Homo sapiens: one gene and its partners. The protein of the gene in region 2 purifies or fractionates together with the protein of the main gene of each other region. This does not show direct contact. Each region holds a gene or a part of one and is shown on either strand. Other genes may lie near its edges. The genes, in order: NUDT12, MZF1, LBR, ZMYM4 and RNASEH1.

Evidence for each region.
Region 1: the proteins of MZF1 (region 2) and NUDT12 purify together in Homo sapiens (affinity purification with mass spectrometry; one large-scale study listed by BioGRID and IntAct). This does not show direct contact.
Region 3: the proteins of MZF1 (region 2) and LBR purify together in Homo sapiens (affinity purification with mass spectrometry; one large-scale study listed by BioGRID and IntAct). This does not show direct contact.
Region 4: the proteins of MZF1 (region 2) and ZMYM4 purify together in Homo sapiens (affinity purification with mass spectrometry; one large-scale study listed by BioGRID and IntAct). This does not show direct contact.
Region 5: the proteins of MZF1 (region 2) and RNASEH1 purify together in Homo sapiens (affinity purification with mass spectrometry; one large-scale study listed by BioGRID and IntAct). This does not show direct contact.

Annotation. Positions count from the first base shown.
Region 1 is NC_000005.10:103,556,043-103,560,026, reverse strand, and holds part of NUDT12 (NAD-capped RNA hydrolase NUDT12), read left to right. Parts: intron 1-558; coding exon 559-1,148; intron 1,149-3,928; coding exon 3,929-3,984. UniProt on the Homo sapiens protein: mRNA decapping enzyme that specifically removes the nicotinamide adenine dinucleotide (NAD) cap from a subset of mRNAs by hydrolyzing the diphosphate linkage to produce nicotinamide mononucleotide (NMN) and 5' monophosphate mRNA.
Region 2 is NC_000019.10:58,563,335-58,567,318, reverse strand, and holds part of MZF1 (myeloid zinc finger 1), read left to right. Parts: intron 1-3,814; coding exon 3,815-3,984. UniProt on the Homo sapiens protein: Binds to target promoter DNA and functions as a transcription regulator. Regulates transcription from the PADI1 and CDH2 promoter. May be one regulator of transcriptional events during hemopoietic development.
Region 3 is NC_000001.11:225,421,282-225,425,265, forward strand, and holds part of LBR (delta(14)-sterol reductase LBR), read right to left. Parts: intron 2,809-3,984; 5' UTR 2,795-2,808; coding exon 2,630-2,794; intron 997-2,629; coding exon 796-996; intron 1-795. UniProt on the Homo sapiens protein: Catalyzes the reduction of the C14-unsaturated bond of lanosterol, as part of the metabolic pathway leading to cholesterol biosynthesis.
Region 4 is NC_000001.11:35,359,209-35,363,192, reverse strand, and holds part of ZMYM4 (zinc finger MYM-type protein 4), read right to left. Parts: coding exon 3,747-3,984; intron 3,592-3,746; exon of another isoform or gene 3,416-3,591; intron 2,000-3,415; coding exon 1,938-1,999; intron 1,575-1,937; coding exon 1,404-1,574; intron 1,003-1,403; exon of another isoform or gene 927-1,002; intron 1-926. UniProt on the Homo sapiens protein: Plays a role in the regulation of cell morphology and cytoskeletal organization.
Region 5 is NC_000002.12:3,541,235-3,545,218, forward strand, and holds the end of RNASEH1 (ribonuclease H1 isoform 1 precursor), read right to left. Parts: 3' UTR 196-3,984; downstream 1-195. UniProt on the Homo sapiens protein: Endonuclease that specifically degrades the RNA of RNA-DNA hybrids.

The DNA of each region.
Region 1 (3,984 bases), on a different chromosome or scaffold from region 2:
GTACCACCTGAAAGGGTTTGTGGTTTAATTTCTTTGTTACATATTTACTTTAAAATTTTGCTTGTTTCCATATTTATATTGTTGAACTACTAAATAACTCATTGGCTAATTTATGTAAAAATGTAGCACAATTTTTCTAACTTAAAACTTTGTAACCTTTTTCATTGAGAAATTATTTCTTTATAGCAAAGCAAATTTATGAGGAGTCTAATTATAAATTTTCCTCCCAAATAGAAAATGCAGATCTCACTATGACTACCAAGGACTTCTTGTAGAATTTTGGTATCTCTTTATAGTGCATAAAGCTTAATACTGTTTTATTTTGTGAGTAATTATCCAGAAAGTGTAAGTATCCACTGTCTCTTAACTTTTTGTCATTTATGATTGTTCTTTTAACCTTCCCAATAGTAAACTATGTAACAAAAGAAAAAAAATCTATGTAATCATTAAAAAGAAGGACTTTAATATGTATCTGGAAATATTTTAGTGAAATAAATACGGAGAAAGTGTTTACTTCCTATTTTACTTTTTCTCCCCAATTTTTTCTTCCATCTATAGGTGTGACAGATCAATTGTCAATAAATCAAGGCAGACTGCACTGGACATTGCTGTATTTTGGGGTTATAAGCATATAGCTAATTTACTAGCTACTGCTAAAGGTGGGAAGAAGCCTTGGTTCCTAACGAATGAAGTGGAAGAATGTGAAAATTATTTTAGCAAAACACTACTGGACCGGAAAAGTGAAAAGAGAAATAATTCTGACTGGCTGCTAGCTAAAGAAAGCCATCCAGCCACAGTTTTTATTCTTTTCTCAGATTTAAATCCCTTGGTTACTCTAGGTGGCAATAAAGAAAGTTTCCAACAGCCAGAAGTTAGGCTTTGTCAGCTGAACTACACAGATATAAAGGATTATTTGGCCCAGCCTGAGAAGATCACCTTGATTTTTCTTGGAGTAGAACTTGAAATAAAAGACAAACTACTTAATTATGCTGGTGAAGTCCCGAGAGAGGAGGAAGATGGATTGGTTGCCTGGTTTGCTCTAGGTATAGATCCTATTGCTGCTGAAGAATTCAAGCAAAGACATGAAAATTGTTACTTTCTTCATCCTCCTATGCCAGCCCTTCTGCAATTGAAAGAAAAAGAAGCTGGTAAGAAATGAATGCTGCTTTTCATTGGTAAAATCTGGTTTTTAGACTTGAGTTGGAGTTGTATGTATTTGCACTTTCCAGGGGCACTCTTTTTCCAGTAAGCAGTGAAATTAGACTGTCTTCATCAGAAACTTCTTAAAGTTCTCACCCTAGGGGACTACTCTCCTGGGCAGTTAGTAGTTCTAATCAGCCCAGACTGATTTCCTGAGAATTAACCCTGGTGCATGATGATCTCATTTGATTCTTCATTGAATAATTCTTAGTTCCTGCTACACGTAGAACATGATGGCAAAGACTTTGACTGTTTTGTTTTGTATTCTGTTGATGGGGCTTTTTATGGCATGGTAAGAAATTGGGGTTTGATTCTAAAGCCATTTAAATGTAACCTAACCTGTGTTTAAAATATTTTTTTAAAAAAGACACTGCACACTGGCTGCATCATAGAGCATAAATTGTACACATGTAAGTAAGTAAGTGTGAAAGTTGGGAGTCTTGTTAAGAGGGAATTGAGTATTACAGGTGCCCAAGTAAGAGATTGCAATGGCTTGAGTTAGAATGGAGGCAGTGGAGATGGAGACAAAGGGAGAATCTGAGGTATTCTCGAGGTAGAAGGGATAGGGCTTGATCTGTAGGTTGAGACCCTTATAAGTGAGAGATGGTGGTAATATGGCATGAATTAAGGTACTGATAGTAGAAATGGAGGAAAGAGGGTATATGCAAGATAAAGTTTGGAGAGAAAATCACTGGTCTTTGCTATTGAATTGGATATGGGATATATAATAATGAAGGAAAAGATTAAGAATGACTGCTAGGCTAGAGACTTTAATAATTTGGTATATAGTGATACCATTTCTCAATAATATAGGATGATGGTTAGAGCAAGGAAAGCAGGACAGACTTGGATTAAAAAAATCAAGAGTTTACTTTTGGGCATACTAAGTTTTAGAAATGGACATTACAATCAGATGTCTGAACTGGAAATACCCATATGGCAGTCATCAACACACAGATACTTAAATCCCAAAAAACTACTGAGATTACTTGGAGAGTTGAGAGGAAGCAAGAAAAACTCAGAATAAGACCTGAATCCCCCTAAATTTAAAGGTAAGCTGCAAGCAGGAGAGCCATCAAAGGAGTTGGAAACAGTGTGGCCATGAGGTAGGAAGAGAGCAAGAGGCCTCAGGGAAACCAAGACAGCAGAGTATTTCCAGGAGGGAGTGGTCAAATGTATTGAATGCTGTTATGAACTTGAGTAAGATGAAGGCAAAGTGGTTTTTTTGTTTTGTTTTGTTTTTTAAAGCATCTTTGTCTTTGGTAATATGAAGCTATTGATGAACTTGACAAGAGAAACGTCAGTGGAGTGAAACGAACAGAAACCAGATTATGGTAGACTGATGAGTTACTGGGAAGTTAGGAATAGGTCACTTGTCAGTGACCACCTTCCCTTAGGTGATAGAGGTCCTTCCAGAGACTGCTTAAATATCTCCTCCTCAAAGTCTGGTGTGGTATGTTTTATTCTCCACACCTGTGGAGAAATCATCAAACTTTTTTAAGAAAATTTATTTTCTTTAGACATATATATATATATATATATATATCATTTTAAGATCAAAAAGATCTGATAAATGAGCTAGTTGCTTGCTTTTTTCCCTTGTAGGAAAACTGAGGCCTTTTAACTCACTTGCTCTATAAGTTTACACAGTTACTTAACTTTTCTGTGACTCAGTTTACTCCTAAAGAAAATGATAATAATAGTATCTATCTTCTTTAGGGTTGCTCTAAACATTAAATAATCTATATAAAATTCCTTGCATGGTGCTTGGCACATTGTAAGTACTCAATAAATGTTAGCTTTTCTTATTGTGATGATTCTGAAATAATGTAAATACCCTAGTGTAAGTTACATATTACAAGGTTACGTAGCAGGCAAAAACGTAATGTTGTCTATTCATTACAACTGTTTTATTTATTTTTCCCAGTTTAAACGATGTTAGAATTTTTGTTATTATTTTGTTCATTTCAAAAATCTGTAGACCAAATAATCTATTTTAGGGAGGGTAACTTTGTCAAGCATTTAACATATAGCATTTCTAGTCTTATTGCCTCAACTGTAATATTTCTGGCCAGGCCATATTAACTTTTTTTGAACTACCAGAGTAAAACCTATAGCTAAAGTGTATATATTTTAAGATTTATCCTATTAGGCATTTTTTGGTAAACAAAGTTAACCATGAATGTAGTAAATGCAGTGTGTTTTATACTGTGTACATGCAGTCTCCAGTTGAAAACAGGTTGTGTTCCACATGGCTTGGACCATCAATGGCATAGTCACCAAGAGAGTGGTGATAGCCTCCTACAGTTTCCTAGTAATATTTCCTTTAGAGTACAAATCTCACTTAAGAACTGACTTTGTGGTATATTTTTATTAAAATCACTATTGTAAAATCACTGTTTGTAAACTTACTCTACACTAGAATCATGAATACCCCAAATTTTAAAATCACCTACAGTAAAAGCCTGATCTAATATAGGATGTAAGATAGATGTCAGTATGTCTATCTTATATGAAAGTTATATTTTATTCAAACAAAAAAATCTAATTTTTGTAATCCAGAAAATTAAATCTTTTACTTTAAAAGAAGAATACGCATTATAAAAATAGAAATACTAAAACCCCTGATCACACAGCTATTCTTATTGTAGCTTGAGAACATTTTACTTATATATTGATTTTAATTTCTTACAGAATTAAAATTTTTGTGCTTTTCTTTTTTTTGAAGGGGTTGTAGCTCAAGCAAGATCTGTTCTTGCCTGGCACAGTCGATACAAGTTTTGC
Region 2 (3,984 bases):
CCAGCATCTGCTTCTGAAACAGCCTCTCCAGCCTGGCTGGTGCCCTGCTCATTCACTTGCATGGCCAGAAGTACCAGGTACCTCCAACTCCTGAGTTTTTAGAATCTTCTTAGCCAGGCGCAGCCGCTCATGCCTGTAATCCCAGCACTTTGGGAGGCGGAGGCAGGTGGATTGTTTGAGTCCAAGAGTTCGAGACCATCCTGGGCAACATGGCAAAACCCTGTCTCTACTAAAAAATAATACAAAAAACTAGCTGGGCATGGTGGCACGTACTTGTAGTCCCAGCTACTTGGGAGGCTGAGGTGGGAGAATCACCCAAGCCAGGGAAGTCAAGGCTGCAGTGAGCTGAGATGGTGCCAGTGCACACCAGTCTGGGCAATGGGGGTGAGACCCAGTCTCAAAAAAAAAAAAAAGAGTCTTGGGAATAAAACTGTGCCTTTTCTTTGCAGCCAGAGAGGTTTATCTATCTATCTATTTATTTATGAAATGGAGTCTTGCTTTATTTATTTAAAGGACAGGGTTTTGCTGTTTTGCCCAGGCTGGTCTTGAACTCCTGACCTCAAGTGATCCTCCTGCTTCAGCTTTCCAAGTAGCTGCAATTACAGGCTCAAGTCACCACACCTGGCTCAGAGAGGTCTTTTTATGTCTTCATCAGGAGACTATTCTGAATAGCTAATACATTCATATGTTAGGAAATTCAAAAGGCACAAGACAGTATACAGTGGAATGCCCCTTCCCTGCCTGGGCCACACAGTCTTACTCTCCAGCAGCCAACACTGCTTGTTTCTTATGTGTCTTTGTAAAAAGATTCTGTACATACAGAAGCAAAGACATTCCCAGACACATGTTCATTCCCTTTTTTTTTTCTTTTGAGATGGAATTTCGCTCTTGTTGCCCAGGCTGGAGTGCAATGGCGCGATCTCGGCTCACTGCAACCTCCACCTCCCGGTTCAAGCCATTCTCCTGCCTCAGCCTCCCAAGTAGCTGAGATTACAGTCATGCTCCACCACGCCCAGCTAATTTTGTATTTTTTTAGTAGAGACGGGGTTTCCCCATGTTGGTCAGGCTGGTCTGGAACTCCCGACCTCAGGTGATCCGCCCACCTTTGCCTGCCAAAGTGCCGGGATCACAGGCGTGAGCCACCATGCCTGGCCCATTCCTCTTCTTTTTTTTTTTTTGAGACGGAGTCTCACTCTGTCGCCCAGGCTGGAGTGCAGTGGCACAATCTCGACTCACTGCAAGCTCCGCCTCCCGGGTTCACGACATTCTCCTGCCTCAGCCTCCCGAGTAGCTGGGACTACAGGCGCCGGCCACCACGCCTGGCTAAATATTTTGTATTTTTAGTAGAGACGGGGTTTCGCCGTGTTAGCCAGGATGGTCTCGATCTCCTGACCTCGTGATCCACCCGCCTCGGCCTCCCAAAGTGCTGGGATTACAGGCGTGAGCCACCGTGCCCAGCCCCATTCCTCTCCTTTAAAACACACATGGGCCCGGCGCGGCACGTCACGCCTGTAATCCCAGCACTTTGGGAGGCCAAGGCGGGCGGATCACGAGGTCAGGAGATCGAGACCATCCTGGCTAACACGGCGAAACCCCGTCTCTACTAAAAATACAAAATATTAGTCAGGCGTGGTGGCGGGCGCCTGTAGTCCCATCTACTCGGGTGGCTGAGGCAGGAGAATGGCGTGAACCCGGGAGGCGGAGCTTGCAGTGAGCTGAGATGGCGCCACTACACTCCAGCCTGGGCAACAGAGCGAGACTCCGTCTCAAGTGCGCACACACACACACGGGCTGGGCGTGGTGGCTCACACCTGTAATCCCAGCACTTTGGGAAGGCGAGGCGGGTGGATCATATGAGGTCAGGAGATCGAGACCAGCCTGGCCAACATGGTGAAACCATGTCTCTACTAAAAATACAAAAAATTGGCTAGGTGCGGTGGCTCACGCCTGCAATCCCAGCACTTTGGGAGGCTGAAGTGGGCAGATCACCTGAGGTCGGGAGTTCGAGACCAGCCTGACCAACATGGAGAAACCCTGTCTCTACTAAAAATACAAAATTAGCCGGGTGTGGTGGTGCATGCCTGTAATCCCAGCTACTCGGGAGACTGAGGCAGAAGAACCGCTTGAACCCAGGAGATGGAGGTTTGCAGTGAGCAGAGAACACGCCATTGCACTCCAACCTGGGCAACAAGAGCAAAACTACGTCTCAAAAAAAAAAAAAATACAAACAATTAGCCAGGCATGGTGGTGCACGCCTATAATCCCAGCTACTCAGGAAGATGAAGCAGCAGAATCGCTTGAACCCGGGAGGCAGAGGTTGCGGTGAGCCGAGATCACACCACTGCACTCCAGCCTGGGCGACACAGCAAGACTCAGTCTCAAAAAAAAAAAAAAAAAAAAAAAAAAAAAAAAAAAACACACACATGGATGCTTATTCTCCACCCTGTTCCACATCTGGCATTTTTTGTGCATCTTCCAACTTAAGTACACAGCAGCAAGTGCTCTACATCTTTGGGTAGCTACACAGAACCCCACTGTGGCTCACTGTGGACACACCATTGAAAACCTTGTATGTAGGTCACTTAGTACAAGGAGGAACACAACTGTTGAAGAAGTACCTAAAAATTGAATTACTTGAACAAAGTGTGGGACATTTGCTGTTTTGATGGATTTTACCACACTGTCTTCCCATTTATGCTTACCAGCAATACATAGGAACACTTGGGTCCCTGCAGTCAGGGTGTGGAAATGGCAGATGAGTTCAGCCCTAAGGTGCATTTTTCTTACTAGGAGGAGATGGAGTGTATTTTATGGGATATAAGCATTAGCTACATTTCCTGTCCTGTTCACATCCTTTGCCCATGTGTCTATGAGGTTATTGATCTTTCTTACTGATTTATTGTAGCTCTTTACTTAGGAGGTTAATTAGCCTTTTGCCTGTGGAGAGTTTTTTGGTTTGCCATTTGTCCTTTTTTAATTTTTTTTGTTTTTTGGCCATTTGTCTTTTGACTCTGATGTGGTTTTTGCTGATTTCCTTTGATGTATTCTAGTTTATCTGACTTTTCTTTGGCGACTTATGGACTTTCTCTCACCACTAAAAGCCCTCACTGCTCTCTCAGTCTTCTTGATTTAACCTCCTCCAGGCTTCCGCCTTCTCCAGGCCCTGATTCTCAGTTGGAGTTGCTGGTGCCTCCTCCTTCACCCAGCGTCTGACGCTGGAGTGCTCACAGTGTGGCTGGGACCCACTTCTCTCCTCTGTAGATACCCACCCCTGTGTTGATCACTTGCAGGCCCGGGTTCTGTGTGCCATGTGTATGCCCTAGAGCCCTTGCTCACGTTTCCCCACAGCCTTCATGAAGTCTGTGTTCCTCAGATGCCCCACAGACATCACAAGCAAGGCACATCCAAACCCCAGACCACTATCCAGGAGCCTGCACCCTCTTTCTGTTGGCTCCACCTCCAGCCTCCGAGACCCACCCACTTCCCTGCATTTGCTGAGACCATCATTTTCCACCTAGACAATGCCCCCACGCTTGCCCTACAGCCCTTCCAAAAACGATTTTTTCCAACCTAAATCAGACCTAGAAAGCTTTTTCACATAGCCCAGTCTTCCTCCTTGTGCTGGGTTCTGTCTCATTATCACCTCATCAGGGAAGTCTGTACAGATAGAATCCCTACCCCTGCATTTGTCGCCTCCGTCTGCCTCTTTGGTCAGTTTCAGGTCCCTGTAGTTCACACTGTGTCCCCAGGGATGAAGTGGGTCCCGGCACGGTGGGCATTCTGTCATGAATGAATGGTCCCCTTGTGTATGCAGGGTTCGCGCTGCAGCTAGGCAGCATCTCCGCAGGTCCAGGTAGTGTAAGCCCTCACCTCCACGTCCCCTGGGACCTCGGCATGGCTGGCCTTTCTGGCCAGATCCAATCACCCTCCCGCGAAGGTGGCTTTGCGCATGCGCTTCTGCTCCCCAGCGATCTGAGGAGTGAA
Region 3 (3,984 bases), on a different chromosome or scaffold from region 2:
AGGAAATCGAGACCATCCTGGCTAACACGGTGAAACCCTGTCTCTACTAAAAATACAAAAAATCAGCCAGGCATGGTGGTGGGCGCCTGTAGTCCCAGCTACTCGGTAGGCTGAGGCAGGAGAATGGCGTGAACCCAGGAGGCGGAGCTTGCAGTGAGCTGAGATTGCGCCACTGCGCTCCAGCCTGGGTGACAGAGCAAGACTCTGTCTCAAAGTCTGTGTGCCTTCTATCCAGAAAAGAGGTTAACATTAAGTGAATAGAAGATTACTTTTATTCTTTTTACTTAACATACTTTGTCTTTGGTCTACTATCTAAAATACTATTTGTACAAGATCTACAGGCTCCATGCACCCTGATATTTCAAAGCTTACATCTTGAAAGTAATTCCACTAAAATCATCTTTGAATAGGTAAAGTGATAAAGTATAATGATGCTAAGAGTAAGAATGTTTCCGTAATACAGGTTTGTCTTACCATTTCATACATGATATGAACTTTTATACACTGTAAAAACCTTACGCAGTTCAATCTACAAGCTACATCTATTTCAAATTTGAACGCTGCTTTTTTAAAAACTAAAATATTAAATAGCATTTCTGGTAACTGAAGGACATTCTTTTCCATTGATATTTAAAACTTTCTATTCCAAACATTTGTTTTATATGAAAACTCCCAAAGTCATCAACTTAGATTTGATGTTTCAGTGACATTTTAATATTATTAACTGCAAGTAACTTGAGTAAATATATACATAAAGCGGAAGACAAAAGGCTGTATAAGGATAAACACAAGTACCAGAATCAGCGGAGTCAATTTAACTTCCACTTCCCTCCTTGCTTCCTTAATGTCGGCCTGGTGGGAAGCAGAAGCAGATCGGCGGGCACTTTTAGGTGGTCGACCAGGGGATCGGGAGCGTGACCTTGATCGACTCCCTCGGCGTCTGGAAGGGGAACTGGAAGTTGAGCCACCTTTCCTTTGCCTAAAGGAAGTTAAAGGCTAGAAAGGGGGAAGAAGGCAAAGAGCTTTACCACAAATCATAACACATACAGACAGACCCACACTAGAAGAGGATAACAAAGGCAGGAACTGCTACCATTAACTCTAAAATCAGCACGGGAAATGTTAGGATCTGAGAATGGATCAGATGAAGCCAATGGAAAATGCTTTCATAATGATCCATCTTTCATGAGACAAATGCAGCCTTTCCATTCCTGTTCTTTGAAGGTATTTCCATGAAACGAATGTATCTAAACCAATTAGCTGTACTTATTTCCAACACCATATGCAAGAAGGGTAATAATTAACATGGATTAAAACTGAGACGACAGGACAAAATAAATAAGCACACAGACCAAAAAAAAAAAAACAGTACCACAGTTTCACTCTGAACAAAACACATAAGCAGATCTTGAAAATAAAACATGAGCTTGGATGACTGGGAACTGTTTCACTGTGTCCCCACCTACTCCGAATCTCCTTATGTTGCTTCTAGGGATGTAGACAAATTACGCCCCAGGCCAAGTCCCTCACCCCAATTTTTGTGTGGCCTTCCTACTAAGAATGGCTTTTACATTCTTAAATGATTACAAACAAAATCAAAAGAACAGTATTTCCTGAAGTGTGAAAATTATCCAAAATTCAAATTTCACTGTCCATAAAGTTGTACTGGAACACTGCCATGTCTGCTCCCTTCCATACTGCCTGGAGCCGCTCCCATAAAGTCTAAAATATTTACTTTCTGTGCTTTATTCCTGGTCTAGAGCACTCGAAGTGTCATCCTCAGCCATGGGTCCTAGAAATGCTCGTTACTAATCTGTGCAAGTACCAAAATTGAGAAATAGGTGTATGGAAATGTTTATAGCATTTTGACAAAGTAATCTCATATCTATCGAATCTGATAGTAAAACTGTGAGTCGTCTATTGTGTATGTCTTTATTTTTCTAGTAACTCATTTTTATGGCATTTTATATAAATGTTTGTATACTACGGATCAGATATCTTAAAACCCAGGCCCTCACCAGACAGGTTGAAAAGCCCTGGGCTAGACTCGAATCTAATTAATGTCACTCTCCTGATTAAATCCTTGGTGTTCAGGATGAAGCCCAAACCCTTGGGCATGGAATATAAAAGCCCCCCCAGCCTGGCTCCTGCTTAGCCCTCCCCTACCACCCCCTTCCAGCACTTGGCTGACTGTGTCCCCCAGACCCCTGACTTTGGCATACTGCCCTCTCTGCAGAAACAGCCCCATCAACTGCTGTTTTTCCTGTTTGTTCTCAGCACTTGGCTAGGTGTCACTGCCTCTGAAAGCCTCCCCTGAAGCCCAGGGCTCTTCTCTACCCTTGATACACTCAACACCACCCACAGCAAACTCCAGACACAGAACGTAGTAAACCCAGGGGACCAACAGATGCAAATGGCTGTCTTTCCCAGTAAGTGTGAGCTTCTTGGGAACAAGGACTATGCCTCATTCATACATTCCCAGAGCCAAAAACAGTATGTGACCCAAAGCAAGAGCTCAATCCTCTGCCTTCAAACCGAGCTGAACTGACTATCCTGAGCTTAGAAACCATACTTAGAGTTATTTCCCACTTACTGTAAACACACTCTGATAAACCAAAGGAGCTCTTACCTTAATATCATTCTCTTTCAATTCAAGCTCTGTTCCATCTTTATACTTCACAGTGTAAAGCTGGGAGGTGCTGTCGTGGCTCAGAATTTCTACTTCATAATAAAGTGAACTCCCAGGCCATCGACCTCTTACCACTTCACCATCGGCAAATTTCCTACTTGGCATTTTCTATAATTAACCTGAATAGTTTTAAAGAAAAAAATTTGAGTCAATACATACACATTTATGTATTCGTCTTTTTCCACAGGCTGATCACTAAAATACAACTTTCCAGAATTGACTGGTCAGGATTTTAGGGCCAGAAAGGCTACATTCAATCTCATTTGGAATCATTTGAGAGGATGATTTAGCCACTGCGTTATCTATGTGACACTAAAGATTAATTATAACAATGTATATAGGCGCCATAAGTTCACACTATGTAAAATGTTACCCACCTACCGTGATCACAGTTCTCGCTAATCAAAAAATGAGGCACAATCTCACAAAGAACACATTTTCTCATTTGTAAATTTGCGTATCAATTTACAATGGCTTTAAAAATGCATTTAATTGTATTTTTAACAAATTGCCTTTATTAAAAACAGCAAACTATAAACCAGACTGGGAAAATCAAGGATGTACAATTAACATGACTATAACCCAACAATAGGAAGAAAAATAATTCCAAGTCTGTAATGAATAAATTTGGGGGTTATTTAGCTTTCAACTCTTACAGCTAAAGTACAAATGCATACCAAGTAACTCTGCCAACCACCCACCTAAGCCAGGGTGGTTGCCTTCATCCAAGCTCACTTCTCTCAAGCCTACAGCAGCCATCAACCCCCAATTATAACATTCTTTTCCTCTGATTCAAAACATGGCCCACAAGCCCCACAATACTCTAGGAATCCACAAGCAATCTGCAAGAACTGCCACTTACGTGAGGCCTGTCTGCCACCCTTTTTGAAATATCAATTGATAGCTGGGTACTTCCAGCTGCCAGACAGTAATGCCGCTCCATCGGCTGACCAGCGGAATCACATTTCCACACAACAAAACCAGGGCTGCCGACCTTCCCCAGTACCACATGAACTAGCTGGGGCCACGTCCAAGGGGCAGCCAGTAGGACAGATATGAGCTGTCTCCCAAATCACCTTCATTTCACCAACTAAGCACTTCTTGATGTATTGTCCAAGCCTATCAATGTACATTCCTCACTGGCTCCTGTTAAGAGCTGATGATACAATAAAAGCAACATTTAGGAACCTTTGAAGACTCTGGAATTAAGGAGAAAGTTGAATTACCTACCCCAAGGGAGTAGTGGGAGAGTGGGGGGGGAGGCGGGGTGAGGGAGGCCTTTCTTAACCACCACA
Region 4 (3,984 bases), on a different chromosome or scaffold from region 2:
GCTTGTGCAACTTACTTTACCAAAAAAAAAGTCTCACTCTGTCATCCAAGCCGGAGGGCAGTGGCACAATCTCAGTTCACTGCAACCTCCACCTCCTGGTTCAAGTGATTCTCCTCCCTCAGCCTCCGAAGTAGCTGGAATTACAGGCACCCGCCACCATGCCTGGCTAATTTTTTGTATTTTTAGTAGAGATGGGATTTCACCAGGTTGGCCAGGGTGGTCTGGAACTCCTGACCTCAAGTGATCTGCTGGCTTCAGCCTGCCAAGTGCTGGGATGACAGGCGTGAGCCATCACGTCTGGCCCCTCTACAAATCTTTTTTTAATTCGCCAGTGTGGTGGTACACGCCTGTGGTCCCAGCTACTCAAGAGGCTGAGCTGGGAGGTTCACTTGAGCCTGGGAGGTTGAGGCTGCAGTGAGCAGTGATTGCACCACTGCATTCCAGCCTGGGCAAGAGAGCAAGACCTTGTCTCAAAAAAAAAAGAGAAAAAACAAAAAGAAAGAAAAGAAAAAGAAAGCACTTCCACAGAAGTCTGACAGTCTCAAACCTTCTAATATAAACAGAAAGATAGGAAAATATAAGCTTCCCCCAGATTAAATGTCATTTCAGAAAAAGAGCCAATTCATACCATCTTTACAAAACACAGATACCCTCAAATAATTGCTGCTATTGCATATTCGTCCCTTGGACCCCTTCTTGCACTTCAAAATGATTGCAGCATCTGATATAACTTTTTTCTTCTATTCCAACAACAGCAACATCATTAACTGCATGGATAGCTTAGCTGACTTCAGGACCTCACAGTTTTAAGATCTCTATGATTTTATCTCCAGAGCAACCTTGAAATAGCAGAGCTCTACCTTCACTCTTATTACTCACAGATCTCAAACTTGGAATCATGTATCATTCATCAAAGCCTCCTTTACCTTCTATCCACTAATCCAATGAACTGGTTCTTCAATCAATTAACCCTTCCAAAGATGATCTGTCCATTAACCCCTCCTGAAAAATATTTAAATCCATATATAGCCTGTACTTCATTAGCATTAACTGCAAAAGGCTTACTATCCTACATAAACTTGATTGCACCACAAACTTATAAACTACCATAAATCTTCAACCATATCTGCTGTATAGTTCTCAAAGCCTTGCGCTAAAATGCATTGCAAAAATCACAGTGGTATTAAGAAACAAAGATGATTAAAAGCCTTAATTACTACTCAGGAAAAGTTTCATATAGCTCGTTAATGCCTTATATGGTAATTCAAATCGCCTCAACCTTCTTTAAGAGTTTCCTTTCACCCTGTCAACAAACTATTTCACTTCTTAAGCACTTCCTCTCTCAAATGAATAATTCAATGTGTGGAACAAAAAGAAGGGGGGAAAAAAGGTGAAATGTTTACTTGAGCATTGTCAGGTTCATCTTTTATTTTGTCTAGTAGTCCCTGCTGTGGTGCCATTGCTTTGTCATACTCATCATCCAAAGGTTCTTCTTTAATTCTAATATTTGATGCAAAGGAATTCCCCAGTTCCGAACCAATGGATTCTTTATTGGCAAATGGGTAGCTGGAATCCTAAAACACAATATAAAGGATTAATAAATATTCAGATTTTAAAATGATTCCTCTTCAGGTTTAACACCCAAAGAAAAGCTCATTGGAAATGAAGAACTCTATGGACATTCATTAGCTTTTGGATCTTATGCCTACGCCTAAAAGTAATTGTGTTATATGTCCAAATACCAAATACAAATAAAGACCCTAAGATTTGAGGCTTTTTAGAATGTCTCCGATGATGACCTTAAACAAATATTAAGCAAATTAAAAAAAAAAAATCAGTGCTCTACCTAATACATTGTTAGAATTTAGAAACTGACATAAAGAAAACTTTGACACTTGTCACAGTTACAGCAATCTACATACACACTGAAAACTTACCCTAAAGTTTGTTTCTGGGGTTTGTGGTAAATGGGTATGTAATGTTTCTTCAACTTGATTAGCTATTGAAAGGAAAAAAAAAACAAACAAACACATGTATATGAATAACAAATCTTACAAAGAGTGACCTAAAAAGCTATCATTTGATAATCACCTCTCTTTTCCAACAAAGATGCTCGTTAGAGTGAACTGGGTCCCAAAAACACCCAAAAGGTATTTTCACTCAAAGTTCTGCACAATCTGGCCCCACCTAGCTTTTAGCCTTACCCTACATTTTTTCCTTGCTCAAACCTAAAAAAAAAAAAAAAAAAATTATTTTTGCTCTGAAAATTGCTTGCATTTGTTCTCCCCCATTTCTACTTATTCTATTCCAAGTCCCCTCTGTCTATCCTAATCTTTATACAGTTTTCCAGACTCAGCTCAGTTAAAAATTCACCTCTCCTCTATAAAACCTTCCCTGTTCACTAAGTTAAAAATCATCTCTCTTCTAAGAATCCCTAAAACACAGTTTCAGTTATTTGAAAGACATCTTTTTGAACTGCCTTATGACAAACTCTTCTACCACTGTCTTTAACTGTAAATTAAATCTTACGCTATTCAGCTGGACATTGGCACTTCTACGGCCTGACTTGTCTTGTCCATTCTACTACTAGACATTATGTTCCTTGAGAAACATGACTCTCATACCCCAAGAAGGGATATTGGAAATATATACTGAATTATAGAGAAAAATATAGTATATCCTTGCACAGACTTGTACATACTCAAAAGCTGTCTTTTTAACAATACTGGTTTGTTCTTTCTACCATACATTTCCTAGCATTGTTAGAAGAAATACAAGGACTGGTATAGAATACTTGCTTTCCTTCACAGCTATTGAACATTTATTGAAGAATTACTATTTTACTACACCAGGTTAGGCCCCAAGAATACAAAGATGAGTAAGATACAATCTGGCCCTCAACTCCTACACTAGTAGGTAAGGTAAAACAAATATAGAACTATAATACTGTGTGATAAGTACTATAAATAATGAGGCATGAAAATGCTGTGGAAATATAGATAAGGAAACCATTCTTGATGTAGAGCAGTTAGAATGATGACAGAGTAGAAGAGGTTTATGAGTTAGGCATTGTTGGATAAGAAGTACTTTCACAAGCAAATATACAGAGAGAAAATGACATGCAGGCAAATGGAATAGCAGGAGGAAAGGAAGGCATAGAAGGAAATATGTGATATATTCAAGAATGTTAACTAAAGCTAAAGTATAGGGTACACTGGGCAAAGAGGCTCAGGAGGAACCTCAAGAAACTTCTAAAACATAAATTAGAAATGTTTGGGTTTTTTTTATTAAAAAAAAACTCCCTTTCAGATAGAGGTGAGAGTTAATAAACAAAAAATTAAATTAAAATTAAAAAAATAAAATAACTCCCTAATTTGGACTAAGTGGTGAGACAGCAGTTTGAATTAGTGCTTACAGCACAAAGAAGTTAAATCCAACTTCAGGTTCCAATGTTCAACCAAAGAAAATGAACAGGTGATTCAAGTATCTTGCCTTTCTCATCAAAACATTGCAACCAGGGGAGGGAGAAATGAGGTTTAGAGCTATTTTCAACCATTTATACCATTACCAAAAGTTACTGGGAGAAATTCAGTCACTCTGCAAAGAACAAGGACAAAAGAAAAATGACAAGCTTACAATGAATTTAACCGTTCATACTTCACTTAACATCAAAAGTAATAAAAGCTATATATTATGATCGGTAATTTTTAATTGTGTTTTATGGTTCTAAGTCCAACAATTATTACCTGCTTTATCAAAAAAACTGCTTTTCAACCTTGAATCCAAATCTTTATGGGGTTTATCCAACCGTTTTTCACGTTCATAAGTTAGGTCTCTATTTTTCTCCTTTCCAGAAAATGTCTCTTTGCTGTTTTCTCTTACTAGACTAAAATCTTTCCGTATTGATTTAAAGACAGAAACCTGATCAAATTGTTTAGGAAAGTCTTTTTTTAACTTATTTTGAATTTGTATTTCATTTTCATT
Region 5 (3,984 bases), on a different chromosome or scaffold from region 2:
AGGAGAATGGTGTGAACCCGGGAGGCAGAGCTTACAGTGAGCCAAGATCACGCCACTGCACTCCAGCCTGGGTGACAGAGTGAGGCTCCATCTCCAAAAAAAAAAAAAGAAAAAAAGAGCACACACCTGCCATATGACCAAGCATTCCATTCCAAGGCATTTACCCAAGAGAAACAGAAGACAAAGACGAGGATATAAATGTTCACGGCAGCTTTATTTGCTTTATTTTTATTTAGAAATTGGAAATAATCGAAATATCGGTCAACAGGTAAATAAATAAACTGTGGTATATCCATGCAATACAAAATGTGGATTATTGATGTACACAAAATGGGTGAATGCCAAAATAATTATGCTGAGTAGAAGCACCTCCCCCCACAGTACTTGCTCTGCGATTCCACTCAGATAAAATTCTAGAATATATAAATTAACCTTTAGTGAGAGGGAGCAGACCAGTGGTTGCCTGAACATGGAGGACACGAGGGACGGTTTAGACCGGGGTGTGAAACTGCTGTTGGTGGTGATGGACATGTTCTGGCGACAGCTTCACAGGCAAATGCATCGGTCACTTCACGTATGTGCAGTTCATTACCTGTCAGTTACACCTCAACAGAGCTGTTTTAAAAAGCAAGGTGGGGCCGGCTTTGGTGGCTCACACCTGTAATCCCAGCACTTTGGGAGGCCAAGGAAGGAGGATCGCTTGAGGCCAGGAGTTTAAGACCAGCCTGGGCAACACAGTGAGACACTGTTCCTATTTTAAATAACAAAACAAAACAAAAGTGGTACAATAACAACTTTTAAAACTCAAAAAGAAACAAAGAAAGAGATAAAAGAGATTCAAGAGACAGTGGCAAACACTGAGAACAGCCAATTTAGATTTCAACATACAGATAACAGGGATCCCCACAGAAAAAAGCCAAAGCAAGAAAAATGTAACACTAAACTCCAGTTCAAGCAAATCTTCTTAAAATAACAGATATGAAGTACACATAGAAAGAGCACACCATACGCTTGCAAATATGGACCAGGACAACCAATACCAACACATGACACATTCGAATAAAACGGCCGACTTGACAGAAAAAGGAAAAAATCCTTTGGGCATCTAAGGAAAAACAGCATATGACTGTCAGGGGAAGAAAACAAGATTCATCAGGCTTTTCATGCATCACTTTATGCTGGAAGAAAACAGAATAAAACAAGATACTCAAAGAAAATCTGGGCCAAGAATTTCGTATCCAGCAAAACTGAATTCAACATCAGAAACTCAAGGAATACTGTCCCCAAGATGACACTGACTATAGACTGGTTATGAGACCTGAACACACAGAAATGAGTCAATGGTGGTAAAAAGGAGCAATTTTTCTGACAACGTAGACACAGTGCTGTTTTCATCATCACAATTAATGCTATGGTATTAGTATTTTTTTTAAATGCTAAATGCTAAAGAGGAATAAAACAAGTGAGTGATTAAGGGATGGATATTCCATGCCATTGTCCTGTGTCTTGAGAAGCAGGATTCCGAGTGCAGGAGACACAGACATCATATAGAGGAGGCTATGTAAAGGCCCCAGGACCCTGAATTTGTATTGGGAATATCAATATAGGCTCAGAAAATATTCTTCCTTTAAATATGTGTGTGCAATGTTTGTATTTTTTTAAAGCTCCGTCCAAAAATCTAGAAATAATGACCAACGCAATAGCAATGAGCATCCTAAACTGGATCTGAAATACCATCTCTACCAGAGACTCTGGGAAAAATAATGGATTCCAAGTGTTAAACGGAATTAAGTTTGGCCTAAAACTGCCTCTGTACATAGTGACTTATAACCTCACTTAATGTATAAGCAAACTGGGACCTGACTTGAGAGTACACTTCTGTAACAAGCAGCAGAGTCTCACCAATCACATGCTGAAGGCTCCCAAAACATGCCTATGTGAGGTGGAGGCTGACCTGCAGTCAGTCTGGCCATGTACATGTGTCTTTCCCTTCCTGTGGCTATAAATAAATACAGCCTGCACACAACGCACAGGAGAACGTTCTGAACCACTTTTGGTCCTGAGTGCTACCCAGCTGAAGAAACTATTTTCTGCTCAATTAAACTGCTAACTTGTCTAAAGTTTTTCTTTTAAGACAGGTTTGGAGCAGAAGCTCTATAAATTGGGCCTAGAGCATCTTGACATGCCAGGCTGCAGGGAGCTATCAATGACTGTGCGTGTGGTCTGTGCACACATGTATGCACACATGTGCACACTTATCAAAAGAAAGCAAGAGCCAAGCTGAAGAGGCTCCCTCTCACTGACCGAATAAGCTAGTCTGAGCTAAATAAAGATAAAAATCACAACGGATTGAAACCCACCAAGTATGCTTAACTCCACAAATTCTTTTTTTTTTTTAAGACAAGGACTTGCTGTCGCCCAGGCTGGAATGTGGTGGCATGGTCACAGCTCACGCATCCTCGACCTCCTGGGCCCAAGCGATCCTCCCATCTCAGCCTCCAGAATAGCTGGGACAACAGGCAGGCACTACCACACCCACCTGATTTTATTTTAATTTTCTGTAGAGACAGGGTGTCACTATGTTGCCCAGACTAGTCTCAAACTCCTGGGTTCATGTGATCCTCCAGCCTCAGCCTCCCAAAGTGCTGGGATTACAGGCATAAGACACCATGCCCAGCCCATGAATTCTTGTATATATGTAAAAACCCTTCACCACTCACCTTCCTTGACAGACAACTAATGCATTATCTTAAAAACTTAGTGTACAAGAGCAAAGAATCAAGCATTTATCCTGCCCTTCCTATATGAACTGTACCACTGGGTAACCAGATAAGTATAAAAAAGAAAACACTTTCTTAGAAAACCATTCCAGCTAATAAAGGCAAGCAAAACGACAGAATGAGAATACCACCATTTTGCAACCCCAAATAATTAATGGATCTTGGCACTGAGCATCAGCTGCCGTCAACATGGTACTTTCCTGAGGAAAGCTCCTAACCGCCTGTTCTCCTGCCAAAGGGATCAAATTTGAGGCTCATCAAGCCTCTGGACCCAGCTGCCAATGTGCAGGAAACATAGAGGACCATGCTGAACTACACCATGACCACGTGGTCAGCAAAATCTACACTGTGGGAAGCCATGGGACAAACAGCCCAGGCTCTTCAACAGATAAACGGCAGGGAAAACAGTGAGGCCGACGGGACTGCAAATGGACACTGAAGTAGATAAAAAAATAAACAAAAAAAAGCAGACAAGACTAAACTGCCATCAAAAAACCAAGAAAGTCATTTCTGTAAAAGTCAGGATTACTTGTTGGGGCAAGGAGGGGGAGAAGAAGAGGGCTGTGGCTGGAGGGGCACTTGGGAGAGCCTCCTGGGGTATCTGGCAAAGTACTATTTCTTCACCAGGTGGTGGACACAAAGGTTATTCACCTTACAATCATAATCATTCAATAAGCTATACATTTGTTTTGTGTCACTTCCTGTATGTTTTTATAATAAAAAGGTTTAAAACTAAATAAATAATCATGTCAAACTTTTACTACTTTTTTTTTTTTTTGAGACAGAGTCTCACTCTGTTGCCCAGGATGGAGTGCAGTGGTGCAATCTTGGCTCACTGCAACCTCTGCCGCCTGGGTTCAAGTGATTCTTGTGCCTCAGCCTCCCAAGTAGCTGGGACTACAAGCCCGTGCCACCACACCTGGATAATTTTTGTAATTTTAGTAGAGACAGGGTTTCGTCATGTTGGCCAAGCTGGTCTCAAACTCCTGACCTCAAGTGATCTGCCCGCCTTGGCCTCCCAAAGTGCTAGGATTACAGAAGTGAGCCACTGTGCCCAGCCGGTGTCTTACTTTTTTTTTTTTTTTTTTAATTTGCACAGTTTTTAACGAAAGAGCCAAATAAATTTTTGAAAGTTTATTTATGCTTCTTGGTCTTTATGAGTCGCAGCTGTTCCTAGAGAATGGCCTAGCAGCCAGGGTCGCCG